6 separate regions of the Homo sapiens genome follow, and all the other regions are linked to region 2. Evidence: fine-mapped expression QTL. A gene starts in region 2. Each other region holds a variant in brackets. All regions are shown on one strand. Distances are between the middles of the regions.

What was found. PIP is the estimated chance that this variant, and not a neighbour inherited with it, causes the effect.
Region 1: its variant is the best candidate, but not a certain one, in a credible set for the expression of CAMK1D in whole blood (TOPMed, PIP 0.88).
Region 3: its variant is the best candidate, but not a certain one, in a credible set for the expression of CAMK1D in whole blood (TOPMed, PIP 0.88).
Region 4: its variant is the best candidate, but not a certain one, in a credible set for the expression of CAMK1D in whole blood (TOPMed, PIP 0.62).
Region 5: its variant is the best candidate, but not a certain one, in a credible set for the expression of CAMK1D in whole blood (TOPMed, PIP 0.72).
Region 6: its variant is the best candidate, but not a certain one, in a credible set for the expression of CAMK1D in blood mononuclear cells (TOPMed, PIP 0.69).

What each region holds. Positions count from the first base shown.
Region 1 is chr10:12,498,451-12,503,596 of GRCh38, forward strand. All of the region lies in intron 1 of CAMK1D (calcium/calmodulin dependent protein kinase ID), which reads left to right. Among named protein-coding and RNA genes, the nearest start is that of MIR4480, 78 kb to the right of the region's middle. The variant C/T (reference allele first, on the strand shown) is at 2,554.
Region 2 is chr10:12,347,776-12,351,775 of GRCh38, forward strand. It overlaps CAMK1D (calcium/calmodulin dependent protein kinase ID), which reads left to right and starts at 1,772. Exons shown (of 11, transcript NM_153498.4): 1 at 1,772-2,135. The coding sequence starts at 2,044. RefSeq lists silencers at 931-1,190, 1,231-1,790, 1,961-2,050 and enhancers at 2,087-2,586, 2,761-2,920.
Region 3 is chr10:12,379,325-12,384,470 of GRCh38, forward strand. All of the region lies in intron 1 of CAMK1D (calcium/calmodulin dependent protein kinase ID), which reads left to right. Among named protein-coding and RNA genes, the nearest start is that of CAMK1D, 32 kb to the left of the region's middle. The variant G/T (reference allele first, on the strand shown) is at 2,421.
Region 4 is chr10:12,389,406-12,394,551 of GRCh38, forward strand. All of the region lies in intron 1 of CAMK1D (calcium/calmodulin dependent protein kinase ID), which reads left to right. Among named protein-coding and RNA genes, the nearest start is that of CAMK1D, 42 kb to the left of the region's middle. The variant A/T (reference allele first, on the strand shown) is at 2,120.
Region 5 is chr10:12,276,184-12,281,115 of GRCh38, forward strand. No RefSeq gene overlaps it. Among named protein-coding and RNA genes, the nearest start is that of CAMK1D, 71 kb to the right of the region's middle. The variant C/T (reference allele first, on the strand shown) is at 2,250.
Region 6 is chr10:12,828,926-12,834,071 of GRCh38, forward strand. CAMK1D (calcium/calmodulin dependent protein kinase ID) reads left to right here. Exons shown (of 11, transcript NM_153498.4): 11 at 1-5,146. Among named protein-coding and RNA genes, the nearest start is that of MIR548Q, 110 kb to the left of the region's middle. The variant A/G (reference allele first, on the strand shown) is at 2,539.

The sequences.
Region 1 (5,146 bases), 150 kb after region 2:
TGTGGCACAGAGAGAGGTATTCAGGAACTCTCTGGCTGAGATATGGCTGAATCCCATATCCACTGATGTGTTTGATTTTCAGCCTGGATAAAGGCTGGATTCTAAAGAAAAGGAGGAACACTTCAGGAAGCGTTGAGTTAGTTCTCATCACTGGATGTCATCAGGGAGGGGCTAGGCCACAGCTGCTTGAAGAGTGGAGATGAAACTGAAAAGAAACTCTGGCTTCCAGAGGGAGTTGGGTTGTGGGGAGTGACGGGGAAGCAGACCTCCAAGGTGAGAGAGGATGGCAAAGTAGCCGATCTTCAGACCTTGGGGCCCCAAGACATCATCACAGTCATTGTTGCCATGAACTCCCTACTTCTTTACATTCAAACTTGTTGGGGGTTCAATTTAGTACTTTGCAGATGAAGAGGTAATGAAGAGAAGCAATAATAATATTGCCTTGCTTTGTCTATAGAGCTGTTTCTTCCATAGAATGTCATCTAATTAAGGATTTCTGTTCATTTACACAATAGAATTTAGGTAGCAGTTTTAGCAGTGGATAAAACAAGGCGTAGATTGCAAATGCCTTCCCCTGGGTCATACCTGAAATCTACTCTCTTGGCTTGTAAATTACAGCTTTTTTTTTTTTTTTTTGCATCGATATTGAACTTAGTGCTTTAAAATCATATATGCTGTTTGCTGATTAATGAGCTAGAAGCAAGAGGAATGGAAATGAGACCAGGAAAATAAAGGCTTCCTGGGCAGTTCTTTCCTATGTGGTTTTTTTCTTACCAATCTCAGTACTCAGAGGCTGAACTGATGAGGTCACTTAGTAACCTTAGTAAGATGCAAATGGACGGTCCTGGGTCTCATTTCATTGCCAGGAGCAGATCCCTCTTTTCTCATTCTGGTAAGAATCCTGCTTTGTCTCTGCTGCCCACAATCCATATCTGCATGCATATTTCATGATTTTCTTACCTTCCAGTTCCTTCTGAAAAAAAAATCAAATGAAAAAAGAAAGATGTGTCAGAACCGAAGGCAGAAATAAACACTTTGATGTGGTTGGCCCTGAGGCATTAGGATTGATTTCCCCCCAGATCCGAATCCCTTCCAAGGAGGCTCAGTGTCTGGGAGGTGGCACACACAGGATTTTATGATAGGATTTGGCTGGAAGCACACAAAGGAAGGCTATTTTTCTGCTCTTCTTCAACACAAGTGCTTGAGAGAGAGGGATTTTCACTTTAGAGCAGACCAGGCAGTGAAGAACAAGGTCATTGGTTGGTTGTCTGCCCTTAGCTGCTTTGAGGAAAGTCTTTCACAAGAGATTGGTGGGAGTTAGCAGCCCCGTTACATAACAGGGTGTCTCTGCCAAGCAGAGTTCTGGAACCTCACCATAGCTCTGGGGGAGACTGACACTGGCCATGGTCTATTCAAGGAGAGGGAATGACAGGAAGAGGAGCCGTCCACGGATCATTTAGGACCATGACAGCACCAGGATGCTCCAAGAAGGCATAGTCTTTGGGTCTGTGGAGTATAGAAGAAAGCTGTCTGGACCACATTTGGTGGCTCATGCCTGTAATCCCAGCACTTTGGGAGGCCGAGGTGGGCAGATCACTTGAGGTCAGGAGTTCGAGACCAGCCTGGTCAACATGCTGAAACCCTGTCTCTACTAAAAATACAAAAATTAGCTGGGCGTAGTGGAGGGTGCCTGTAATCCCAGCTACTTGGGAGGCTGAGGCAAGAGAATCGCTTGAACCTGGAAGGTGGAGGTTGCAGTGAGCTGAGATTGTGCCACTGTACTCCAGCCTGGGCAATAAGAGCAAGACTCTGTTTCAAAAACACAAAACAAAAACAAAAACAAAACCCACAAAAAACGCTGTCTGACTTCTTTCTTTGTCTCCTGGGTCAGAATTAGTCACTTTGGGGACCTGTCCAGGGCTTGGCTTACCTCTTCTTAGACCTCACTGAGCCCAGAGGTCAGTGAGACATAGCATTGCCCAGGGTTAATCTGCTCTGGTGGTGTCAGGGAGCCAGCACCAGGAACCTTTCCCTGCGGGCATGGAGGGGCCTTTGCTGCCATTGCCAGGGCTGGGTGTCATGCCATTCCAGAGATTGAGAATTCTACTGGAAAAGTAAGAAGTTGAGGTATACAGTAGAAAAGATCAGATTATGAAGCCTGACCCCACCCTTTGCCTTGTGACCTTGGACGAGTTGCTGAACCTTTCTGGGCTTCAGTTTAGATAAGATTATCCAGCTAAAGAGGCTTGGGCATTCTGCCAATTTGTCCTTGAATCAACCTCCTTTTTATTAGACATGAAGTGTGGATTCTTTGCAAGGGACTTAGCAGTGAAGTACACAGGTATGTTGTACACCTCTTACTTGTTGATTAAAAATGACATGATCAAATTCTCTTGTTAGCATGAAGAAGAGGAAACTGTGCTGTTATTAACTGCCTATTGTGTGAACACTTTCGCATAGATTGCTTCAGTGCAGCCTCACAATCACCTCCTGTGGTTGGTGTTATATTTCCTCTTACAGATGAGGAAAGTGAAGCTTCCAGAGGCAACGTGC[C/T]AAAGACCTCTGGGCTAATCATGGGTATATCTGGCACCCAGATCCCTGTCCACCGGACTCCAAAATCCATCCCCTTTCCCGTACTCCACCTCGCCCTCAACTCACTCCATTCTGCTCACAAAGCAATGATGGAAAACACAGGGAAAATGGAACTTGGTAGTCCCAGCCTAAGTGGGTTGTAGCAATTTCCTGTTTATTTTAGTTTTCTTTTTCTTTTTCCTATAAATAGTGCCCTGGGGGCAGAATTTACTTAGTCTTCACATTTTTATTGAGCCCTTGTATATTCAGAGCACTGTGCACTGGCTGAAACTCACTAAGAGCTGCAGAGATTGAGAAGTTCTGATGCTAGTTTATCATCTGGTGAGGGGCGAGGGGGACTTTAGGTGTGTGGAAGCCTCTGCTTACCTGGGGCGTGAGTGCGTGTGCTCAGCGCTGTTCTGCCGGATTGCCATGTCATGGGCCTCACCATGTGCTCATTCCTGTGTTCATTCCTTTCAGGTATTTACATAGTGTCTGTTGTATGCACGGCTCTGTGCTAGGGGCTCGGAGGAAATAAAAAGAAATGAAGAATGTGGACTCTGTTCACCAGGAATTCCTGGCTTATCTGCGGAGATACGCATATTCCAGCAGTTCTCGACTGAGAGTGATTTTTTTTCCCGCCAGGGGACATTTGGTGACATCTGGAAACATTTGGGGGTTGTGTGTGCCGCTTCTAGTGTCTGTGGGCGGAGATCGAGGATGCTGTTAAACATCCCTTAATGCACAGCACAGCCTCCCCACCCTAAAGTATTATACAGCCTGAGTGTCAGGGGTGCTTGGGTTAAGAACCCTGGTATGTCTCAAGGGTGTGGTCCCCAAAAGCCATTTGATGCTTTTGGAGTGGTGTGTGCAGTTGGTGAGCAGTGCTGCTGTGACCTCCATGGAGGGGAGCTGGCGGCAGAGTGGAGTGCTCAGAGCTGCAGGCCCTAGGGAGAGTAGGGGAAGCCTGGACTGTGCTGAGCTGGGATAGAACTGAGGCAGCTGCAGGGAGGGCAGGCAGCCACCAGGGCAGGCAGCCACCAGGGCAGGCACAGGCTCAGGGTCAGGAACGAGTGTGGAGCTGGTGGCACGGTGAGGAGGACCTGTCATAGGGCGGAGGCTCTGTGCCGGGAGCAGCAGGCAGTCTGGACCGAAGGAATGAGAGACATCGCAGACCGTGGGCTGAGTGATGCTGTGATGGATGCAGAGCTTTAGGAAGGTATTCAATGGTGCTGGGCAAGATGGGGCAGAGAAAGGCCAGTCCAACGGAAGGAGAACCCAGCCAGGGAATGGAAAATCAGGCGGTGATGTACCGTGCAAGCTGGAGGGAGCATTGCCAATCCTGGCCTGTTTCTCAGGTTACCAGTGAGAAAATCAGGTGTAGGGCGATGAGGCGTCTTGGCTTGTGGGCAGCGCTGGGTTCAAGGCAGGTCCTCGGCCGCAGGACCTGGCCTCTACTGACCAGCATCCCATGGGAAACCTCAGCCTGTCCTCTCAGCAGCCCCGCAAGGCAGACACCATCATTTACCTCCACCATACAGAGGAGGGGACACACACTGTCACACACACTTCACCTGCCCCAGGCCTTGTTCTGGAAGTAGCAGTGCCAGGCTTTAGCCCGGGCCCTCGGACACCAGGATGCTTGCTCTTTAGCCATGGCCACTCTCGTTCCAGGTATAAGGCTGGTCAGCCTGCCCAGGGCTGGCAGTGGGGGCGTGGAGAGAGGGTGAAGGCAGAGCGCTGGGAAGGAGGTGTGTGTAGGACCCGGTGCCTGGCTGGGACTTGAGTCCCATGGTGTGCCTGCGACCCTGGAAGGTGTGTTACTTGCCATGCTCATTTTCTCCTTGGAGCCCATCTTCACTGCAGGGTGCAGTTCACTGCCTTTGCCAGTCCAGTGTTGCCTTCGCAATGGTGGCGTCTCCACGTTCTCCCCATTGGCACAGGCTTCATCAGTTGTGCACTGTTGCCCCTTCAGGCTGTTCGCATGCACGCGTGTATATATGCATGTGTGTGTGTGTGCATGTGTGTATACTTGTGTATACGTGTATGTATATGTGCATACATGTGCTTATGTATGCAAGCATGTACCTACGTGTGTACACATATACATGTGCACACATAGGTGAATATATGCATGTGCATGTGTGTATATGTGTATATATGTACGTGTGGGTGCATATATGTATGTGGGTAGACGTATAAGTCTGTGTGTGTTGTGTGTGTGCACTTGTGCCGCTGGGATTTTGGGAGGAGCATTTGCTCCTCGCCCCGCCTGATGTGGCCAGGTGGCTGCGTGTAGTGTATTTAAATGCGTTCAACGACATGAGTGAACGTAAAACAACTCCTGGGTACCAGGTTTACAGTTGAGAAGCAGGTCCCCTCTTGGCGTGTGTCACAGCTGTCTGGCAGCCTGGGCTACTTTTAACAAGGGAGGAGAGAGCAGGTGAGGCGAAGAGGCCAGAAGAAGGGAGAGCAGAGAGGGGGGCCTGTGAGAGAGAAGGGAGTGGGCAAGAGCGGGCTCCCAGGGAGAGGGGCGGGACGTTTGTGAGTGGAGATCTTATCACAGAAAATTCAG
Region 2 (4,000 bases):
TAGCAGAGAACCAAATAGGAAAAGAGGAGAAGGAAACACAGTGGGAGGAAGGGAAGGAGAAAGAAAGGACAAGAAGATGCTGACTGTAGGCATGAGAAAGCGACAGTTGGGATCTTAGTTGACTTATGCCCTGGTTCCCACTGTTTGTATTATCTAACCTTTGGCACAAGTAAAATACATGATAGTTTTTCAAATGTTTCTTATTGAAGGGGATGCTGTTTGCCTTGAACTTTGGTAATGTGCCTCAAGTATAAGAGAGGTTCCTTAGTAATTCTTCTCACCCATCCGTGTTGGAAATTGGGTTTGTGGATTTATTCTACATCTAACCGGCAAGTAAATCCCCTCTTTGCTCTTCTCAGTTTGGAAAACCTTAAGCTAACCGTCTTTGAAAGATGGAAACTAGCATGGAGGTCCCAGGAATGGGGATGCCAGGGTGTCGTCTGACCTCTTTAGGGTCAGAGTAGGGGCTGAGGGAGAGCAGCTGGGCTGCCTCCACTTCAGCCAGAGTCAGAACTAGGCACAAGGTGCTGGATGAAGTTTCCTATTCAGGGAGCAGATTTTTTTTTTCCTTTTACAGTGAAATTGGAACAGTCCTGGGAAAATGGGACAGGTGTCCCCAGTCAAGAGACAGAGCTGTTTACCCAACTACGAGGAGAGGCCCTGAGGGAGGCGAAGTGTTGATACCAAGAAATCTAAAATTTTCCGATCAAGAGGTCGCCCCTGCAGGTTGGGGACCAGGGAACTGGAGCACGTGGGCTGCCCTCTGACAGGTGGACACCAGGAGTGGGGCGGGCAGGCCAAAGTACAGCTGGGAGATGGGAGTCCGGAGGGAATTCTCTGGGTTAGTTTTGGCAGTCCATAGGAAAGCAGGTGCCTGCCCCGCAACCCGGACACCCTACTAAGCCAGCCGCGGGTGGGCTCCTCCTTCGAGGGGACTGCGGGGCAGACGATCACTTCTTTCCACTGAGTCTCTGGGAGGAGACAGGGAGATGCCAGAAGGGGCCAAGCGTGAGCCAGGGCAACCAGGCCGGCCAGGCCCGCCGGCCGCTCCAGCCCAGCACCAGGGCGCCCGCGCGGCTGCCAAACACCCCCGGGAGTTTTGCTCGCAAAGGGACCACGAGGCAGCTGCTGGCGCGTCCTGCGCGTACCCGCCCAGAGGCTCCCCGGCTTGCTCCTCGCGGGTCTGTCCCGAAACTGACGTGAAACCGATTTGGTGCAATGCGAATGAGCTCCCGCCCGCCTCCGCCTCCATCCCAGCCGCCGCCGCCGCCCGTCGCCATAACAACCGGCCCCCACCCCCCCCACCCCACGCCTTGCCCCTCGGGTCCCCCGGGCCACAGGCCACAGCGCGGGAAGGCGCCCCGCCCTCGGCGCCCCGCATCCGGCCGCCGCGCACCCCCGCCCGCCCGGCGCTTCCGAGCCACGCAGAGGCGCCCCCTCCCGCCGGAGACGGGAAAGCCCCGGCGCCCCCAGACTGGGCTCCGTTTCCAGCTCCCGGAGGGGCTGGGGCTCTCCCGCGTGCGCCCCGCACCTGCCGGGGGCCCGTACCCGCCCTCGCCGGGGCTCCAGGGGGCACGACGGCCGTGGCCCGGCGCTCTTGGGAGGGGAGCGGGACATCCCCGAAGGCGGCGCGCTGGAGGCGGGGAGCGGCCGGGGCGCACGGAGAGGGCGGGGAGCCCGCGGGAGGGGGAGGAGGGGGAGGAGGGGGAGGAGGCGCGAGGTGGGGGGGAGCGCGGCGGGCGGCAGGGAGGGAGCGGGAGGGAGGCAAGAAAGTAGCAGAAAGTGAGGCTGGCAGGCGGCGGCAAAGGAGCCGGCGCGCGGCGGCGGCAGGAAGTCTGTGCCCGAGAACAGCAGAAATAAGAGCCAGGGAGGGACCGCGGCCGCGGCGGCGGCGGCGAGAGCGAAAGAGGAAACTGCAGAGGAGGAAGCTGCGCCGCAGCCCGAGCCGCCCGGCATCCCCGCCGCCTCTGCGCCCGCGCCGCGCCCCCGGCGCCCCCTCCCCAGCGCGCCCCCGGCCGCTCCTCCGCGCCGCGCTCGTCGGCCATGGCCCGGGAGAACGGCGAGAGCAGCTCCTCCTGGAAAAAGCAAGCTGAAGACATCAAGAAGATCTTCGAGTTCAAAGAGACCCTCGGAACGTAAGTGGGGACCGGGGAGGCGAGGGTGGAGGTGGCCGCGGCAGGGGCTGCACGGGCAGCTCCAGCTGCCGCCGCCGCCACTACCGCGGCAGAAACCCAGCCTGTCACCGCGTCCTCATTGTCCCGTTCTCGGCGCTGCGGAGCCCCCCCGAGCGCGCCCGACGCGTGGGCCTGCGACCCCCGGGTGGGCGCCGTTCCCGGGAGGGGGAGGGGGCAGCGCCGGGCTGTCAGGGAGCAGCCCACGCGGGCGCGCGACTTCCCACTTCTCCTGCCACCGCCGCCCTCTCCGCTGCCTTCTCCCCACGCGTGACTGTGGGCTGAGCATGGTGGGGATGGCTGTTTACCGGCTGTGTGCGTTTACTCGCCGTGTGCATGGGCGCACCGCGTTGGCGAGACGTGGTCACGAGAAGATCAGCCTCCAGTCGTTCCCATTTCTGTCCTTACATCATGTATTTCTATGGAATTGGCATCTGCACGTACGAGGTGTAGGCAAGACTTTGGGTGGCCACGCGAGGATGGAAGGGAAGGGCTTCGCAGTGCTCAGGGTCACACGTGGGCAGAGCCTCACCGGAGGGTCTGTGCATTTCACGCGGGCTCGGCCGCACGCGCCGGGGAGCGCGTCTCCAAGGGAGGGTCTGTGCGCGTCGCTGCGCGGGCGGTGCTCTCTCCGGGCTGCATCGAGTCCCATGCTGATGGCTGTGTCTCAAGAAAGCAGAAATAATCCGAAGTCGATGGCAGGAACGCTCCAAGCATGTGCTGCTCAGCTCAGCTGCTGTTCCCTTTCTGCCCAGGAGTTGGGTCTTGTTTGTTTTGTTTCGGAGCGGCTCAGAATAGGTGGGGAGGCTGATAGTGAAAGAGAATCAGGACCTGCCGAATGAGTCTGAAGTTCAAGTTATTTCCTTCCCTCACACAATCAGTATTTGCTCTGCATCAGTATCTGTCAGTGTGGATTCACGCACAGGTGTGCAGTCAGAAATGCCCATTTTGCAGGGGTTCATGGAGGTGTTGATTAGGCTGGGAAGAGAAAGGGGAGCTATTTCATGGGATAAATCAGTGCGTTGTTGGGTGCCCTTTCTTTCCTTCCTCCTTTTTTTCCGTGTGCTTGTTTTTGTGCTTGGTTTCTTTTTTCCAGCACCACATTACCCAGCTTGTCTTCACCTCCAGGCTCGGCGTCTGCTGCTGTTCAGTCATTTCCCCTCACCCCCACGCAGATCTGCAGGGGGTCCCCCGGAGAGAAGTTGTGAGGGTGGCTTTCCCAGTCCTGCTTCTGATTCCCGGGAAGGCGCACGCTGAGGACTAGAGTGGGGTCTCCCTGCTGTGGTTGTTGCCTTTCAGGGAGGGCACCTATTTGCTATCTTTGTTGGAATGAAAACAGAAAAAGATGTAGCTTTTTAATAAATAGGGGTTTGGGGTTGCCTCTTAGTGCAGCCAGGTAAGGGGTTAGTTTGGGTCAAAACTTTTGAAAATTGCCACTGAGGTTTATTCGGGTTTGGGGTTGTGATTCTGAGATGCTCAAGTTACTGAGAGACAAGAAAGCATGGCCTTTGCTTGTCATCCAGGACCCGCACTGTGGCCGCCAATGAGGAGATGGGAGAGCATGGGGACCCACCCTGTGTGAATGCTTTCCTGTCCGTGGCTTGTTCCCACCCGAGCCCCCCACACTGGCTTCCTGCCTGTAGCCTCCGGGTGACTGATGCCCTGTCCCCTGACTGACTCGTGCAGCTGCACCTCTGCAGTGGCGGGGCTGCTGAGGCTCCAAGCTGTGGCTCCTGCTGGAGCATGGTGTTTGGAGATGACTGTGGGTGGTTTCCACCTTGGGGAAAAATGGGGATTTGCCCTCTGGTGCCAGAGCGCTTCTCTGGCAG
Region 3 (5,146 bases), 32 kb after region 2:
TATAGTTCATAAAATGGAAATCATAATTGTTTATATTATTTAGGGTCGTGATGAGGTTTTCATGAGATAAATCATCAGAGTTTCTTGTTTGTTTAATGCCTGGTGTTTAAGTGCTCAAAAATGTTAGCTAAAATCCCTTAATTTGGGGCCAGTCTTGGTGGCTAACGCCTGTAATCCCAGCACTTTGGGATGCTGAGGCCAGTGGATCAACTGAGGTCAGGAGTTCCAGACAAGCCTGGCCAACATGGTGAAACCCTGTCTCTACTAAAAATACAAAAATTAGCCGGGCATGGTGGTGCACATCTGTAATCCCAGCTACTCGGGAGGCTGAGGTAGGAGAATTGCTTGAACCCTGGAGGCGGAGGTTGCAGTGAGCCGAGATCGTGCCACTGCACTGCAGTCTGGGCGGCAAAGCGAAACCTTGTCTCAATCAATCAATTAATCAATGAAAGAAAATAAAATAACTTAATTTGAGGCCAGTTTTTACCATTCAGATTCATGGCCAGATACGACTCTACTCCTGGCTAAATATCTTTCAAAAATGTGCCAGAAAGTGGATGGATCAGTATAAATCTTTTGGGAGGACTTTTAAAAAAAAGGGTGTTGTTGGCCGGGCGCGGTGGCTCACGCCTGTAATACCAGCACTTTGGGAGGCCGAGGCGGGCGGATCATGAGGTCAGGAGATCGAGACCATCCTGCCTAACACGGTGAAACCCCGTCTCTACTAAAAATGCAAAAAAATTAGCCGGGCGTGGTGGCGGGTGACTGTAGTCCCTGCTACTCGGGAGGCTGAGGCAAGAGAATGGTGTGAACCTGGGAGGTGGAGCTTGCAGTGAGCCAAGATGGCACCACTGCACTCCAGCCTGGGTGACAGAGCGAGACTCTATCTCAAAAAAAAAGAAGAGGCATCGCTGATTGATTGAACATCAGGTGAAACCCTTTTTCCTTAGTTCTGAATCTAGCAGAGCAATTATTATGATACTGTCTCACCTTCCAATTAAAAGGATCAATGATTATAAATATGAGAGTAAAGGTTTTTAAGGCTACAAGGAATTCGTCACACTTGGAGCCTAGGTTTTGTAATGATTATTGAGTTTGACAACCCAAAGGAGGCCAAACAAATCCTTCCTTTTATGAAGCTGATAACATAATTGCACTTCAGTTTTTCATGTGATTATTGCCCGGAAAAAAGGGAAGGATTTTTCTTATCATGATGCCACCCAAGTCAATATATGTTTAAGACCATTTCTCAGCTGGGCGCAGTGGCTCATGCCTGTAATCCCAGCACTTTGGGAGGCCAAGGCGGGCGGATCACGAGGTCAGAGATCGAGACCATCCTGGCTAACACGGTGAAACCCCATCTCTACTAAAAACACAAAAAATTAGCCAGGCATGGGGTCACGTGCCTGTAGTCCCAGCTACTCATCAGGCTGAGGCAGGAGAATCGCTTGAACCCATGAGGCGGAGATTGCAGTGAGCTGAGATTGCACCACTGCACTTCAGCCTGGGCAACAGAGCAAGACTCTGTCTCAAAAACAAACAAACAAAAAAACAAACCCCACGCATTTCTCAGTTAATTGAAGGCTCACACATTTAGTAATGATATAATTGGCCTAGTCATTTGTCAGGTTGTTTTTGAGTTAAAATGAATGGTTTGAGGTTGAGATGAAATCAATGAAAAGTATATGCCTGTGTGAAGTAGCTTGTACATTTTTATGACTCTTCCATTTTGATTTAGGTGAAAGCCTGCCTTTTCCCTTTATTGGAAATAAAAAAGGAAGTAGGAATGAAAAGAACTGGTCATGTCTTGAAAATAATAGCAAAAGGAGGTCAGCTTTGTACATACATTGAGCAGTGACAGCGGGCCCCGCCCCTTATAAAGTTGTAGAATGAATGCCGTTCCCTTCCTGGGGTGGTCACAGCTTGACTTGGGTGATTGCTTCTGAATCCTGCAAGGAGAAATCTTGGGTAGTGGTTCTTAAAAAATGTCGGAAGGACTAGAAAATCATAATGCTTTCTTTTTTTTTTTTTTTTTGAGACGGATTCTCCTTCTGTCACTCAGGCTGGAGTGCACGATCTTGGTTCACTCCAACCTCTGCCTCCCAGGTTCAAGCAATTCTCCTGCCTCAGCCTCCTGAGTAGCTGGGATTACAGGCGCATGCCACTGCACCTGGCTAATTTTTGTATTTTTAGTAGAGACGGGTTTCACCTTGTTGGCCAGGCTGGTCTGACCTCAGGTGATCCGCCTGCCTTGGCCTCCCAAAGTGCTGGGATTACAGGTTTGAGCCACTGCACCCAGCCAATTCTCAAGTTTTTTAAAGAAGACAGTGCAAGCTGCTGAGAATTGACGATACAGTCTGAGTTCTCTGACGGTTGTGGCGTGGCATACAGAAGCAGTCCGCGTTCATGTTCGGAGTCTG[G/T]TCAGTGTTCATTGTCTTGCTAATTGGATGATCCCAGATGTGCCAATTAGCTGGTACCAGGGGCATGTTTAATTGGTAGAAATGATGAGTTCGACTGTGCTGTTGCCTGATGAGTTTTCATAGCAGAGACCTGGCGTTTTAGGTGACTTGGTACTATAAAGCAAGAGTAAAACGTTTTAAAAGAAAAAAAAACTGTTTTGCTATATACTCACGACACTTCTGACACTCATTGTGTGGGTTTTTCCACACCAGTCCATTTTCCTTGGAAACTGTGACTTTGAGTGAAATGACGTAACAAAACCACAATTTTTCATTTTTTTATCAGTGTTGTAATGAAATGATATTGAACAAAATGATGATATTCAAGTATGTCATTTTGCTTAAAGTCAATTTCCAAGAACTGACTGGACATTAAGTGGGGACTTGCTGTACCACCTTTTAGGGAGAACAGTTGAACAACAGTTGTCTGAGCTAATATTTGGAATATATTAATGAAAACCATGTTGTAGAATGTGTGCCCAGCCTCTCACTATATAGTCAGCCCCATGGACACCTTTTATCTGTGTCATATCTTGTAATGATAATGTATGTGAAATCCTTATGGTATGCATCACACTTGTTTATACTAGATGATAAGGTACTTGTGGGTGAGCCTGACGCATGTTTTGGTAACTTACATAGGATCTTTCATATGAAATACTCAGAAATAAAGGTGCTATAGTCTGTTTATTATCATACCCAGACATAAAAATGCTAATACTGTTTAGAAAGATTTTAGCTATAAAAGTTTAAAAACCAGGATGGGCATGGTGGCTCACACCTGTAATCTCAGCACTTTGGCAGGCTGAGGTGGGCGGATCACCTGAGGTCAGGAGTTCCAGACCAGTCTGGGCAGCATGGTAAAATCCCATCTCTACTAAAAATACAAAAATTAGCTGGGCGTGGTGGCGGACCTCTGTAATCTGAGCTACTCGGGAGACTGAGGCAGGAGAATCTTTTGAACTCGGGAGGCGGAGGTTGCAGTGAGCTGAGATCGCGCCACTGCACTCCAGCCTGGGCAACAGAGTGAGACTTCATCTCAAACAAACAAACAAACAAACATGACTTCAAGTAATAATAGCACTTTCTGTGTTCCTTCCTAGCACTTTGATTAAATGTGTCGTTTAATCTGTACAACATCCCTGCAAGTAGCAATTTTTTTTTTTTTTTGTAGTTGGCACATGGAAGAGAAATAACTTGTCTGAGGAAGCACAGCTAGTAATGGACAGATCTGGGATTTGAAGCCAGTTCTTCCAAAGTGCACACATTTCCCCTGCACTTCTCTCTATGTATTCTAGCTAACCAAGCTGTTGCTCTAATATAATTTGTTTAGAGCATCAAACCACATAATCCAGGTTTCCGGGTGTAGTTTTTTTATCTGAAGTATTTGGTACTAAATAATTAAATTAGCTAAGTGTCAAATCCCTCTTTGTTTTAGGATTTATAGATTTAAATAAAATTAGAATAGATCTTTCCAATTTTTTTTTTTGTTGTTGTTACTGTAAAGAGCTTTTTGTGGTGGAACTAACTTTGGTGAGCAACAGAATAAGAACTCAGGGAATGTCGAAGCAGGAAAATTGGTACAGAATTTCAGAACATGCTCAGAATAAAGCCTTTCTTTTCAGCAGTAAATTGAGTGACTTGCAACTCGGGGAAATGTCAAATTGACATGAATGTCCATTGCTTGGACTTTATATTAGCAGGTGTTTATTTCACCACAGACATTGGGTTTTATTAAATACGCCCATTTCAAATCTTCTTGAACTTCAGAATTACTCGAGCTTGTTATTTTCTCTTTCTTACCTAGTACAAGCATAAAGAATATTGAAAATCTGTAAGATAACTAAATATTAAGGAAGTTGTGTATTGGGAAATAAGCATACTTAGGTCCTTTTATGAATGGACATAACAGCAAAATAACCTTTTACACAAATAGTTTTAAAAAGTCTACTCACAGAGCTAAAATCACACTTAATGGAGAAAGAATGAACGCTTTACCTTAACTAGCCTCAGGAGCGACACAAGAGTGTCTGCTCTCACCACCCCCATTCAACTTTGTAGTGGAGGTTCTAGCCAGCGTAGTTAGAAAATGAAATAAAAGGTATCCAGATTGTAAAGGAAGAAGTAAAACGATCTCTATTTGCAGATGAGATGATCCTGTAGAGAGAAAATCCTAAGGAATCACCTAGATAACTATTCCATTTAATAAATGAGTTCATCAAGACTGCAAGATCCAAGATCAGTATACAAAAATGAATTATATGTGTATATGCTAGCAAGGAAAAATAAAAAAAGAAATTAAGAGAACAATCTCGTTTATAATATCATCAATAAGAATAAGATATTTAGGAGTAAATTTGACTGAAGAAGTTCAAGCCTTGCACATTGCAAACTACAAAACATCATTGAAAGAAATTAATGAAGACTTAAATAAATGGAAAGACGTCCTGTGTCTATGGATTGGAAGACTTAATGTTGTGGAGATAGCAAAACTCCCCAAATTAATCTATAGATTAAACACAATACCTTTCAAAATCCCAGCTTGCCCTTTCTGCAGAAACTGAGATGGTGATCCTAAAATTCATATGGAAATGCAGGGAACCCAAAATAGCCAAAACAGTCTTGAAAAAGAAGAGCAAAGTTGGATGACTTTAAAAACTTACTACAGAGCTACAGTAATCAAGACA
Region 4 (5,146 bases), 42 kb after region 2:
TTCAGGCTTCAAGGAGAGGTGCTCAGTGCAGGAGACTCAGCTTCTGCCCAGCACCACAGGGTCGAGGGCTTGGAGCATCCAGGTGGTTTCATCCAGGCCTGAGTGAGAACGTGACCTAGTTACTGTGCCTCTCTGCACGTTGGCAGAATAAACAGACCTTGCTTCCTTCCCTACTCACAGCAAGCAGAATTCTGCTGAGCCTCTCGGAGGCTGGAGGGCCGGTTTTAGTAACGTGCCCTTTCCTGGTTGGCGACCGTCCAGTTATTTTGGGTGAATGTTAATGGCCGTGAGTTTGAAAGTTGTAGTTAGATGAAAACGCCCTCTCTGGACACAGTGTCCTTGTCACCTACTGTCTGAAGGTGCTTCCTTTTTGGGGAATAGGATTGAGAGCAAAATGGTCACAAAATCTGTGGCTTTGGATTGTCATTTGATTTTTTTTTTTTGATGCCTTCTGTCTGCATTTAGGTCAGTGGAAGGGATGAATTCATCATAGGCACTTGTAGTAGAACATCTCCTTGAGCCTCAAAGAGAAGGCTATTTTTCCTGTGGGTCATCTTTGTGCTGTGCATGGGAGGTCCTGCCCCATGGGGCAAGGTGAGTTTAACTTTTGGAGGTGGCTGGTGATCTTGGGGGGAATTTAATTTGAGGACATGTGCATGACCAATAAACTGTTCTGGAGGAATGAATAGTCCTGTGTCTCCCATATTTTTACCTTTTATAAAGCGCTTGTACTGCACGGTGTCCTTATTCTAGGCTGATGCAAAATTTTCATACTGCATTTGCTAGTGATTTGCACCAGTGGCCGAAGAACTATAAAGTAGTTGTCTCTATTTTTTAAAAATTAAAAAAAAAGATGGGGTCTTGCTCCATTGCCTAGACTGGTCTCAAACTCCTGGCCTCAAGTGATCCTCCTGTCTCAGCTTCCTAATTGCTGGGATTATAGGAACGAGCCACTTTGCTCAACCTTAGTTTCTGTTTTATTCAGAATGGAAGGAATTTCTCATATAAGTAGAATTCTAGAGCTAGAAGAGACATTGTATCTCTAGCTCTGTCTCTGTCTTTATCTCTGTCACTATATCTGTCTCTGCGTCTGTCTCTAAACTGTCTTTATCATCAGGCACAGAAAGTTAAGCCCCATTATTCAAGATCCTACAACTAGTTGAGGGTAGAATAGGGTCCATTGTGCCCAGGCAAAACCCAGGTAAGAGTGCAGGGCCAGGGCTAACCATGAGCTCCGGGACTTGTGCAGCCTGCCTGTTTCCAGTCTGTGTGTTCCCCCTTGGGTCATGTCACGTGGGAGCAGAAGCTTCTAGTCGAACGTGTAAAGGACCCAAGAGGAAAGGGGAGCCCAGAAGGGTTGAGGGACTTGCCTGAGATCACACAGCTAGTGAGCGAGTCACCTATCCAAGCCTGGAATACGGGTCCAGCTGTCCCCACGGAGCCATCCTTCTGGCCCACTAGATTCAGAATGAACTCAGGCTCAAGCGTGCGTGAATAAGAGGATGCTGTGCATAGTCCTGACTTTATGAATCAACTTGATGAGATTCTGTGTGGGGTCAACTAATGTGCTCAGAGTCCAGCATTGAGTGAGTAGGAGGTGGGAAGGGGTCCAAGCTCAGTTCTGGCAAAAACTCCAGAGCTCAGTGTTGGGCCAACACTGTCTTCTCTCGTGAATGAGGAAAACCCTTTCTCAGGCCATGATACGTTGGTATCTCAGTCTTTTGGCCATGAAGGGTAGAGGGGAAAGATTGAACTTTTAAGATCTTTGCCTGGATTCTTGTTATTCTCAATACAAAATAAAATACTTTAACTTCAAGCTCGTGTGGGGCCCTGGGAACAAGCTGTAGGTGTGCGCTTTTTTTTCTCTGATTAAATTGGAATCACTATGTAAATTAACTTTCCAGGGGATTGTCTGTGGGAATTCCTAAAGCAGTCTTAGGTCGGTATGACACGTGAAGAAAATACATCAAGCAATCAATCTTAGAAGCTTATCTTCTATTCAGGGTTTCCACAGGAAGGCAGTTTCACCCCAGCTGGGATCACCGGTTGCTTTTCACATTCTTAATTCTTTTGCCAATTTTCCAGATGCCTGTGGAAATTCATGCTGACCGTTTTTTTT[A/T]AAAAAAATTCCATTTTAAGTACTGAATATTTTCCTGTCACTACTTAAACTGGCATGAATAAAATATTCCCTTTCGGGAGGATGATTTTCAAATGTTTCTTAAAGAAAAACAAAACACCCTAGTCGGTTAAATTTAGGAGGTCTGTTAAAATGTCCTTACAGTACCAGCAGGTGAATTTGAGAATAAGAATTCTATCTTCCTCACAGTGCCATATACAGTGCACTGTAATGGCAAGCATAAGGAAATTAGGAAGACTAGAACCGAATCATCCAGGACTCAAAATAGAGTTTCTCCCTCAGAACAATCTGGGGTATCTATACTAAATTTATGGGATAGTTACTGTCATTAACAGCTCATATAACTGAAAATGGTGAAATGATTTGAAAATCAGATAAATGGTAATTGCACCACTGCACTCCAGCCTGGATAGCAGAGCGAGACTTGTCTTAAAACACACACACACACACACACACACACACACACACACACACAAACAGTCTGGGTATGGTGGCTCACACCTATAATCCTAGCACTTTGGGAGGCCAAGGTGGTGGATCACCTGTGGTCAGGAGTTCGAGACCAGCCTGACCAACATGGTGAAACTCCGTTTCTACTAAACATACAAAATTAGCCGGGTGCAGTGGTGTGCACCTTTAATCCCAGCTACTCGGGAGGCTGAGGCAGGAGAATCACTGGAACCCAGGAGGTGGAGGCTGCAGTGAGCCGAGATGGTGCCATTGCACTCCAGCCTGGGTGATACAGCAAGACTCTGTCTCAAAAAAACAAAACAAAATCAAAAATCAAAAACAAAAAACATAACAAAACCCCCACAACTCCTCCTTCCCTCTCCCCCCAGCCCCTGACACCTACCATTCTACTTTGTTCCTGAATTTATCTACTCTAAGGACTTCCCATAAGTAGCATCATACAGTACTTAGCCTGTTGAGATTACCTTATTCTACTCAGCATAATTTCCTTATGGTTCATCTACATTATAGCATTTGTCAGAATTTTCTTCCTTTTTATTTATTATCATGTACCATATGTTATTTGGAAATACGTATACACTGTGGAATGACTAAATTGATCTAGTTAATATATGTATTACTTAACATACTTGTTTTGTAGTGAGAATGCTTAAAATCTACTGTCTTAGCAATTTTTGAGAGCATATACATTGTTATTGAGCATAGTCACTATGTTGTACAATAGATCTCTCGAACTTTTTCCTCCCAGCTGAAATTTTGTATCCTTTGACAAAAGTCTCCCCAACCCCCTGACCCCCAGGCCCAGGTAACCACCATATTACATTCTAGTGAAAAAACAACTTCATTAGAAATTTTGATGAGTTTAAACATAGTAAGCCTCAATTTTTCTTCCAAATTTTCCTAGTTTTGAAAGTATACACACACACAACACACACACACATACCCTGATCTGGACCAGGTTCTTAGCTACAACTGACTGCTCATCGACTGTCATGAATGGATCTGAAACATAACTTTTTTTTTTTTTTTCTTTTTTGAGACACAGTTTTGCTCTGTTGCCCAGGCTGGAGTGCAGTGGTGCAATCTCTGCTCACTCCAAGCTCCGCCTCCCGGGTTCACGCCATTCTCCTGCCTCAGCCTCCCAAGTAGCTGGGACTACAGGCGCCCACCACCATGCCTGGCTAATTTTTTGTATTTTAAGTAGAGATGGGGTTTCACCATGTTAGTCAGGATGGTCTCGATCTCCTGACCTTGTGATCCGCACGCCTCGGCCTCCCAAAGTGCTGAGATTACAGGCGTGAGACACTGCGCCTGGCCTTTTCTTCCTTTTTTAAGGAATACATTTTCTTTTAGCTCCTACTGAATGCAACTCATGGTGCTAGGCTCTCTGAGAGAGGCAAAAACATTTCACTCAAGGAACTCATAGTGTTATGGGTGAAAAGAATGGAAAACACGGCAAGCGTTTTAGATGTGTGTTACCACCATCTGTCCTCCTGACCTCAGTGAGATGGGGTCAGACATTTTAATTTTCTCACCCAGGGACATTCAGCGAATTAAGTGGCTGAGTTGAGCTTCAGGCCCAGCTTTGGGAGACACTCCCTGTATCCTGTAAGCAGAGACCAAATCAATGCTGTGTGAGTTTAGAGATGGAGACACCCAGCCCACCTGGGGGAAGACATGATGGACGCGTGAGCATGTGTCCAAACTTGAGGCATGGGGAAGTGTCCTGCTCTGAAGGTGGGGACGGTGGCTGAGCAGACATGCCGGCCAGAACACTACCCTGAAGATGACAGTGTTGACATCAAGGGCGGGAGGTGAAGGAAAATGGCAGCTTACGCTCCACACCTCACACGTGTGTGGGTTTTTCCTTCTCATTAAGCAGTTCTCCAGTTCTTGGACACCTGTGTGTCCTAGAATTCACCTGTGACACTGACTATGTGCAGGTATTGCAGACCCCCCAGGTTGAGGGCAGTTCCACAAGACCGCTCCCGACACCCCCTCCGCTTCAGACGCCAGTCACAAGTCCTAGGTTGCGGCTCGTGCTTTTGGCCGACTGGCCATCCTTTGAGGGTTCACACCATCCCAACACACGTTTGATCGTTTGCGATAATGGCTCACAGAATCTAGGGAGACACTTATGTTTACAGTTGTATTATGACAAATACAACTCAGGAACAGCCAAATAGAAGAGTTGCATGGGGCGAGGTGTAGGGTGGGGTGAGGTAGCAGGGGAGCGTGCCGTCCTCTCCGGGTGCCCCACCTCCCTCATATCCAGGTGTTCACCAACCAGAAACTCCCCAGACCTCTCCAATTAGGGTTTTTATGGAGATTCCATGATTGATGTAAATCACTGGTCATTGGTGACTGACTCAACCTCCAGTGCCTCTCCCCTTTCTGGACTGGCAAATTCCAACCCTCTCTCATCACCTGGTTGGTTCCCCTGGTAACCAGCCCCCCTTTTCCAAGAGTCACCGCATTGGCATAAACTTAGGTATGCTTGAAAGGGGCTTATGATGAATAACAAGAGATGTTCCTTTC
Region 5 (4,932 bases), 71 kb before region 2:
CGTGCCATTGCACTCCAGCCTGGGCAACAAGAGCAAAACTCTGTCTCAAAAACAAAAAAAGTCTGACATGTACTATGTTCGTTGTATGCTATGTTGAATGCCGTGTGAGCCCATGCATTAGCTCATCTAATCCTCACAACTTTAGGATGCAGGTGATAGCATGATCGTTTTTTCAGATGAGGAATTTCCGAGAGCCATTGGTAACACAGCCTGTTAGTGCCAGGGCTGGGCTTCTCACCATGTTTGATTCCCGGTTCTAAACTCGTAACCAAGCTGCCTAATCAGCCTCTGTCTGTTTAGACCTTTAAATTACTGCCTTTTTGTTGTTGTTTTTATTATAATGAACCCTACAAGAAACATCGCATTGTTACGCATAGGCTGTCTGCATTGTAATGTTGTTGACTCTGTAAACAAGTGGGTTCAAGAGTGTGAACATTTTGATGACTGTTGAGGTCTTGTGCCAAAATAACTTTGAAAAGAATTATGCCGATTTACAATATGTAAATTATATTCTCCATTTATATGCTCTCCATCTATAAGGTCCTTCCTTGCCAGTTTTATATATATATGTGTGTGTGTGTATATAGATATATATATGTAGTTTTTTTTTTTTTTTTGAGATGGACTCTCACTCTGTCACCCAGGCTGTAGTGCAGTTGCGTAATCTCAACTTACTGCAAACTCCGCCTCCTGGGTTCCAGTGATTCTCCTGCCTCAGCCTCCTGGGTAGCTGGGACTACAGGCACACGCCGCCATGCCCAGCTAATTTTGTATTTTTAGTAAAGACAGGGTTTCACCATGTTGGCCAGGCTGGTCTCGAACTCTTTTTTTTTTTTTTTTTTTGAGACGGAGTCTCACCCTGTCACCCAGGCTGGAGTGCAGTAGTGCGATTTTGGGTCACTGCAAGCTCCATCTCCCGGGTTCACGCCATTCTCCTGCCTCAGCTTCCCAAGTAGCTGGGACTACAGGCACCTACCACCACGCCTAGCTAATTTTTTGTATTTTTAGTAGAGACAGGGTTTCACCGTGTTAGCCAGGATGGTCTTGATCTCCTGACCTCGTGATCTGCCTGCCTTGGCCTCCCAAAGCGCTGGGATTACAGGCGTGAGCCACCACGCCCAGCTGTAATAGTTATATTAATTTAAAATTTTGTTTGGCTGATTTAGTAGCAAAATGAAAATTTAATATTTTAACTTCTTTTTTGATTAGAAAAATTGAGCCTTGACTAGGTACGGTTACTCACGCCTGTAATCCTAGCACTTTGGGAGGCTGAGGTGGGCAGATCACAAGGTCAGGAGTTCGAGAGCAGCCTGGCCAATATGGTGAAACCCCATCTCTACTAAAAATACAAAAATTAGCCGTGTATGGTGGCGGGTGCCTGTAATCCCAGCTACTCGGGAGGCTGAGGCAGGAGAATCGCTTGAACCCGGGAGGCAGAGGTTGCAGTGAGCTGAGATTGTGCCACTGTACTCTAGCCTAGGCGACAGAGTGAGACTCTGGCTCAAAAAAAAAAAAAAAAAAGAAAAAGAAAAAAGAAAAACTGAGCCTTATTTTATGTATTTGTTTACTGGTTATAGTTCTTTGAATGATAGCTTTATGTCCTTTTCCCATTTTTTCATTAGAGCCTTGTTTTTTCTTTTTCTTTTTTTTTTTTTTGAGACAGGGTCTTGGGCTGTAGCTCAGGCTGGGGTGCAGTGGTGCAATCATGTCTACTGCAGCCTTAACCTCCCAGGCTCAGTGGATCCTTCCACTGCAGCCTTCCCAGTAGCTAGGACCAGAGGCATACGCCATCAGGCCCAGCTAAATTTGCTTTTTTTTTTTTTTTGAGACAGTCTCACTCTGTTGCCCAGGCTGGAGTGCAGTGGCGCGATCACAGCTCACTGCAACCTCCACTTCCTGCATTCAAATGATTCTCGTGTGTCAGTTTCCCAAGTAGCTGGGATTATAGGCGCATGCCACCACGCCGAGCTCATTTTTTTGTATTTTTAGTAGAGACAGGGTTTTACCATGTTGGCCATGCTGATCTTGAACTCCTGGCCTCAAATGATCCACCCACCTTGGCCTCCAAAAGTGCTGGGATTACAGGTGGGAGCCACCGTGCCTGGCCCACTGGAGATAGAGTTTCGCTCTTGGCATCCAGGCTGGAGTGCAATGGTGCGATCTTGGCTCACTGCAATCTCTGCCTCCCAGGTTCAAGCAATTCTCCTGCGTCAGCCTCCTGAGTAGCTGGGATTACAGGTGTGTGCCAC[C/T]ACGCCCAACTAATTTTTGTACTTTTAGTAGAGATGGGTTTTCACCATGTTGGCCAGGCTGGTCTCAAACTTTTGACCTCAGGTGATTGGCCCACCTCGGACTCCCAAAGTGATAGGATTACAGGCATGAGCCACCATGACCGGCCTGGAGACAGTTTTAAAAAACCAATTAATAAGGATTTTTCTCATGTAATGAAGATATTAATGCTGTGGTCAGATTTGGTACAAATATTTTTCCTGGTCAGTTTGCATTTTAATAGTTTGATTTTTTATTTTTGACATTTTTAAAAGTTCATATAGTCAGATACACCACTTTTTTCTTTTTTTTCTTTTTTCTTTTTTTTTTGAGATGGAGTCTCACTCTGTTGCCCAGGCTGGAGTGCAGTGGCATGATCTTGGCTCACTGCAACCTCCGCCTCCTGAGTTCAAGCGATTCTCCTTCCTCAGCCTTCTGAGTAGCTGGGATTACAGGCATGCGCCACCACACCTGGCTAATTTTTGTATTTTTTAGTAGAGATGGGGTTTCGCCATTTGGCCAGGCTGATCTTGAACTCCTGACCTCAAGTGATCTGCCCGCCTCGGCCTCCAAGAATGCTGGGATTACAGACGTGAGCCACTGCTGCAATCGTAGCTCACCGTAGCCTCAACCTCCCAGGCTCAAGTGATCCTCCCACCTCAGCCTCCTGAGTAGCTGGAACTACAGGTGTGCACCGCCACACCCAGCTGATTTTTCTGTTTTGTGTAGAGATGGGGTTTTGGCATGTTACCCAGGCTGGTCTGGAATTCCTGGCCTCAAACGATCTGTCTGCCTTGGCCTTCCAAAGTGCTGGGATTACAGGTGTGAGCCTGTAATTACCGGCCCTAATTTTTTATTTTATTTTTTTTCCTGCCTCTGTGTCCCCCTACTCTTTCTAGTTGGTTAAAAAATACTGCTATAAGTGTATATTGATGTTTGCTGTTGCGTCTATGCCGAACATACTTAAGGCTGTTTCGTAACCAGCACAATCCGTGTCTCACACTATCCAGCCTTTCATCATCTCCCCACCACCCACTCACGCCTCCACCGGCTCTAGTGTGGATTCCATCCCAGTTACACCAACAAAACAGCTCTTGCTCTCTCTTGACTCGCTATTGGCCTTTCTCTTCTTTAGTGGATATTTCTCAAATGCATTTTTTTTTTTTTTTTTTCTGAGACGGAGTTTCACTCTTGTTGCCCAGGCTGGAATGCAGTGGCGTGATCTCGGCTCACTGTAACCTCCACCTTCCAGTTTCAAGTGGTTCTCCTGCCTCAGCCTCCCACGTAGCTGGAGTACAGGCACCTGCCACAATGTCCAGCTAATTTTTGTGTTTTTAGTAGAGACCGGGTTTCACCATGTTGGCCAGCCTGGTCTCGATCTCCTGACCTCGTGATCTGCCTGCCTTGGCCTCCCAAAGTGCTGGGATTACAGTGGTGAGCCATAGCACCTGGCCTAGAATGCATCTTAATTGAAGTATTGGAAGAGTTCAGGCCTTTTGTCAACATCCACCTTCCTATAAATCTCCCCAAGACAGGACTCACAGCTTAATGAGGAGCTTCTTGCAAAATACATACAAAGCTGGCCTTCTAGCTGGTTGAAGGGCTTGGTTAAATTGAGCGCAACACTAAGCCTAGGAGTGAAGAAACGACATAGGCAGGCTGGGCGCGGTGGCTCACACCTGTAATCCCAGCACTTTGGGAGGCCAAGGTGGGCGGATCATGAGGTCAAGAGTTTGAGACCATCCTGGCTAACATGGTGAAACCCTGTCTCTACTAAAAATACAAAAAATTAGCTGGGCGTGGTGGCGGGCACCTGTAGTCCCAGCTACTCAGGAGGCTGAGGCAGGAGAATGGCATGAACCCAGGAGGCGGAGCCTGCAGCGAGCTCTGATGGCACCACTGCACTCCAGCCTGGGCGACAGAGCGAGACTCCATCTCAAAAAAAAGAAAAAAGAAAAAAAGAAAAGACATAGGCAATTCTTTCTTTGTACTCTTTTCCAGTACTTAAAAAAAAGAGGTATAATTTTTGTACAATAAAATGCACGGATGTCAAGTGTACAGTTGGATGAGTTTTGACGTCTGTGTACACCTGTGTAATCAGCTGCCCAGTCCAGATAAAGAACATTCCCATCAACCCAGAAAGTTTCTTCATACCCATTTCTAGTGAATTTTTCCCAGCAGAGGCAACCACTGTTCTGAATTCTATCACAATATTTTAGTTTTGCCTGTTTTAGAATATTACAGATGTACAATCATTTAGTATTTACTTTTTTGTGTCTGGCATCTTTTCTCAACATAATAATTTTGAGATTTATGCATGTTATTGCATGTTTTTCTTTTTTATTGCTAAATAGTATTCTAATATATCAACTTTTTTTTTTTTTTTTTTTTTTTTTTTAGAGACAGAGTCTTGCTCTGTCACCCAGTCTGGAGTGCAGTGGCACCATCTTGGCTCATGCATCCTCTGCTTCCCAGGTTCAAGTGATTCTCCTGCCTCAGCCTCCCGAGTAGCTGGGATTACAGGTGTGTACCACCACACTCTGCAAATTTTTGTATTTTTAGTAGAGATGGGGTTTCTCTGTGTTGGCTAGGCTGGTCTTGAACCCCTGACCTCAGGTGATCCACCCTCCTTGGCTCCCAAAGTGTTGGGGTTATAGGTGTGAGCCA
Region 6 (5,146 bases), 480 kb after region 2:
AGGGGAGCCCCAGGGTCGCCAGAGCCGCGAGCCACTCCAGCGAGACCCCACCTTGCATGGTGCCCCTTCCTGCATAGGACTGGAAGACCGAAGTTTTTTTATGGCCATATTTTCTACTGCAATTCTGAAGTGTTCATTTCTCACAAACTGTACTGACTCGAGGGGCGCTGATTTCATAGGATCTGGTGCTGTATATACGAATCTTGCAAAGCTCTAACTGAACGGACCTTCTTATTCCTCTCCCCTAACACCATCGTTTCCACTCTTCTCAGTGTAGGTAACCGTCTATGGTGTGTTTTTTCATTAATGACAAAAAAAAAAAGGTTTCAACTGGATTATTTAAATATTGGTAAATATTGTGCATTAGGGTTTGTTTTTCCTTTTAAGAAGTATGTCCTTTGTATCTCTAAGTTACATGACCTATATCTTTTCCTCTTTAATAGTAGTTTTATGTTAACCTTTAAGAGATTTGTTTTTCCTCAAAGGAGAATTTAAAGGTATTTTTTAAAATTCTAATAAGAGGATCAGCCGGGTGCAATGACTCATGCCTGTAATCCCAGCACGTTGGGAGGCCAAGTCGGGCGGATCACAAGGTCAGGAGATCAAGGCCATCCTGGCCAACATGGTGAAACCCCACGTCTACTAAAAATACAAAAAATTAGCCGGGCGTGGTGGCACACACCTGTAGTCCCGGCTACTCGGGAGGCTGAGGCAGGAGAATTGCTTGAACCCGGGAGACGGAGGTTGCAGTGAGCTGAGATCGTGCCACTGCACTCCAGCCTGGGTGACAGAGCAAGACTCTGTCTCAAAAAAAAAAAAAAAAATTCTAACAAGAGGATCATGAATCTGTCTCCAAGGCTAAGAGTGCCCTTCACCTCTACTCCTTCTGTTTCTCTCCCCTTCCCCAGGAGGAGGGGCCCCTCAGTTCTGCGAGGCTCTCTTCTCTGCGGGGGACTTTGGTAGAGAATCTGCACAGAGCCTTTGCTGGCAACCCATCCAGCAGAACCCACACCCACCAGAGACCCTAGAGGCCTCTTGCCATCAGCAACCAGAAATAAGCCTGCTCCCCCGAGACGCAGGGCTCAGCTTCACAGGCCAGACTTGCTGTGAGTGAGATGCCCACACTGCAGAGATGCAGGACCCTCCCTTGCAAAAGGAACCAGCTGCCATGTTGCTGAAAGTGGGCCCACACACAACCCTCATTTCTCACGAGAGCTAACAGATGAAAGCTCAGCTATGCAGTGTTAAAATTCATCTCTTTCTCTGTGGTTTTTAAAAAAATGCATTTCTAATCTTACACTTCACGTGGCCTCCAACACAAAGTTCTTTCTCCACATTTTTACCCTCTTCTCACATGAATGTTTTCCAAGGGAAGGAAGGGAGGGAAGCAGCCTTGGGAAAGGATCCATTTCTGGTGGTAAGGAGAGGGGGCCCTGCCAGGCTAATGGGACTTCAGCCACCACAGAGATGACCAAAGACCACCTCCGCCAGGCCCAGCCAGTGCTTGCAGCCCTCCCATTGGTCAGGGGAGTCTAAAATCAAAGATACATGGTGGTAGGGTCACCAAACGTCCCATTTGCCCGAGACTGAAGGATTTCTCAGGCTGTGGACATTTAATGCCAAAACCAGGAATATCCGGGGCAAAGCAGGCTGTGTTGTTCGCCTTTGTGGAGCCAGGCAGTGTGTGGCCCAGGGAAAGCTGCGTTTCATGGAGGCTTCCAGGAGGCTGCCCTGTAAAGCCAGGCAGGTGGCTTCAAGTGCCATTCCTGCAAGTGCCCCTGCTTCAGCTCTCAGGCCCATCCAATGCCTCGAGCCCACGGGGGTGTCCCGGCAGGTCTGCGTCATCACGACCCAGTAACGCTGCTGGCTGTGTCCTCATGCCCTCTTCCTCTGGCTGGCCAGTCATGGGAAGTCCTGTTGGTTGAGTCATCTTTGTCACTTCTACACCTTTGAGTATGTACAGGCTGAATGTTGAGTGATGCCCCCCCACCCTCTCAATAAACACACACACACACACACACACACACACACACACACACAATGTTATTAGGCACAGCAGCTCCATCCTGCTCCCTGAGAATGGCAGTGCAGGCACAGAGAAGAGCAGTTGGGAAGACAGGCAGCTGGTCTACCCTGTCCCCGCACACTTCACAGGCACTCCACTGCTTGGCAGGAATTCTGCATGGCATCTGCCACGCATGCTCACAGGGTGAAAAATCAAGCTGTCACTCTGCAAAATCTAAAAACCCTGGAAAGGTCTATAAGATGACATTAGACCCAGTTAAGAAGCAAGTGTCACCTGAGTTGGCCATGCAATGAATGAATATTATAAGCAGTATTGGAGAACTAGGCGGTTGCTTACTAAGAAGTGTCTTGGAAACATTCGAGTTCATACAGTGCATGACAAAGTAATAGAAGGCTGCAAGCGCTGAAAATGCACCCGAATCTGGTACCTAGGATGAGTACATGAATAGTGATGAATAGCCCTTTGTGCTGTGTGCTATATACAACCATTTGCATTCAGAAAGCAGCATTTGA[A/G]GCTGAGTTCCATTACTGGTGATTGAAGTATTTTCAGGAGCAGATACATGTGGTGCATGTTATATGCACTTAGTTTGAAAGTATCCCTCACCCAAAAAGTGCAGAACCTCTGAAAGGTGAGCCGTGGTGCAGGTGCCCCCCTCGCTGTTCGGGTCAGTTCTTGGCCATGCTTGGCCTGTCACACGCCGGGTCTCAACAACATCGTGCGAGGAGACAGTGACTGGTTTCAGCCCAAGAGTCAACTGTTGAGCATGACATCAGGAAGCCTGTACTGTCCTGATCCCACCAGGCTTGGGTTAATTTCCTATTGCTTCAGAGAAAGAGAGGCGCTCTTGTGCTTTTGAGAGAGCTCTCATGTTAAAAAGAGGTTGTCTTTGCACTGCGCTTGGTATGATTTGTTTTCTTATAAAACAGGAAGAGAACCTAGAATGTGCCTTTCGTGAAGGTCTGACAAATGGGGTCTCAGAGTCCTAGGACCCGCACCAAGGTCAGAGTCCACCTGTAGAGGCTGAGCATTTCTACATGCACCCAGGGTGCTGGGCTGAGGCTAAGGGTGGACGCGTAGACCCCATCACAGGCTTCCTTCCTGAGCCCAAGTCCCCCATTTGGTCACTATCCCTTCTCAGAGCAAGTGGATTCTCTTTTCCTCACTTGGAGTATTCAATGTTGAAGTAGTGGCCTGGAGTGGCCTTTCCCTCAGCTGCCTGTCTGGGCTCCCTGGCTTCCCGGATCTTCATCTCATACGTGAGGCAATAGGAGGAGTTTCTATTCATTGAGACAAACAGTGAGCGGGCACCAACAGGCCAGCAGCTTGGCCCTTTTCACAGAGGTGGCCTTGGAGTCTGGAGTCTGGGCAGCTGTCTGCCTCTCTACGGCTCTGCTTCCCAGCGGGCACACGGGTCCGGAGCCTCAGAATGAAGTGGTGCAGAGGCGCAGGGCACACCTAGGAGAAGCTCAATGACCACCAAAGCCCTTGAGGAGAGACGGGGTTTGCTGTGTTAGAGAAATGGCAACCCCCAGGACCATGCACGGCTCTGGCAGTGCACAGTGGCTGATTTTCACCAGTTCCTCCTACCCCTGCCTCTGTCGGAGACTAGAAAACATTCTACCCCTTCAGGTCTTCTTTTAAAAGAAAAGAGCTATGGCAAAGCGTGCCATACAAAGTTAAAAAAAGGAAGAGTGGCTTTGCGTTCTTGACCATGGCCACAATTCTGGTCACTTCTAGCATCTGACCTTGAGAACGGTGTAGAGTCTCTGAGCCACCGCTGGCCTTTGAGAGAGTCTCACTCTCCAGCTAGCTCTTTGTGTAGTGTCCAGGGCCCCGGCAGTCAGGATAGAGCGAGCAAAAGAAGATGGACAGTGGACAGGGCGCAGTGGCTCACGCCTGTAATCCCAGCGCTTTGGGAGAGCGAGGCGGGCAGATCACAAGGTCAAGAGATCAAGACCATTCTGGCCAACATGGTGAAACCCTGTTTCTACTAAAAATACAAAAATTAGCTGGGCATGGTGGTGCGTGCCTGTAATCCCAGCTACTCGGGAGGCTGAGGCAGGAGAATCGCTTGAACCCGGGAGGCAGAGGTTGCAGTGAGCCGAGATCGTGCCACTGCACTCCAGCCTGGGTGACAGAGCAAGACTCCGTCTCAAAAAAGATGGCCATGCTGGCCAAGGCTGGGCTCATAGGAAATATCTGTAGTAGGATGAAAGGAATCTGGCCTAGGGAGCCCCGGACTCGGTTTACCTACCCCGTACTCATCCCACTCATCTGTCTACCCTAGTGTCCATCATGCCCTGGATGAATCGTAGGTGGGAGGGACAGAAGCCGAGAACACCAGGCACACGGGGTGGGGGGAATGGGGGGAGCCCAGGTGATCCCCTTTGGAAAGTGGATTGATCCTCTCCCCTGTGGAATGACAGCTTAACCTGATTAACCCACTGGGGCTTGCTATTTTATGAGCATTTTTAAACAGAAAGGAAAGATGATATCCCAGTGCAGGTAGACTTTATTTTTGAAAGCATCGTGGCCCCTCACCTCTCCCTCTCCCCCAGAACCTTGGCCAGAATTGAGTCTTCGCGTTGGGGAGGCCACGCTGGAACCATTGCTCTAGGGCTGAAGGTGGAAGTAGGGCCACTGCCGCAGCTTCAGCCAGAGCCCTCGCTGCTTCGCAGAATTTAACAAGCACACGACTGGGATTCCTTTGGATATGAGAAAGGAAGGCAAGTGCGGGCAAAGGGAAGCTCCTCCCGTTTTTCATAAACAGAAGTAAGATGTCCTCTTTCCCAGGTTTGCACAATCACTTCTGGCAAATTAATTGAAGGTCCTTGAATTCAGCCAGTGCACGAAACCTTTGCATGTTCTTCTGAAACTGTACTTCTTCCCTATTCTGTCTACCCACACTCTGCGAACTTTGCCTTTTCCTTAAACACATTCCAGACCAAACACTGTTCAGTTTGTTAAAAAAAAAAAAAAAAAAAAAAGATGTATATACCTGTATGTGATCCACCACCCTTTTGAGGGGCACCTGGTCCTCGGTTGGGGCTGCAGGTGTGCCTGACATTTGCAAAAGATATTCCAGTCTTTCGATGTTCAGAATTGAAAATGTGGAGATAG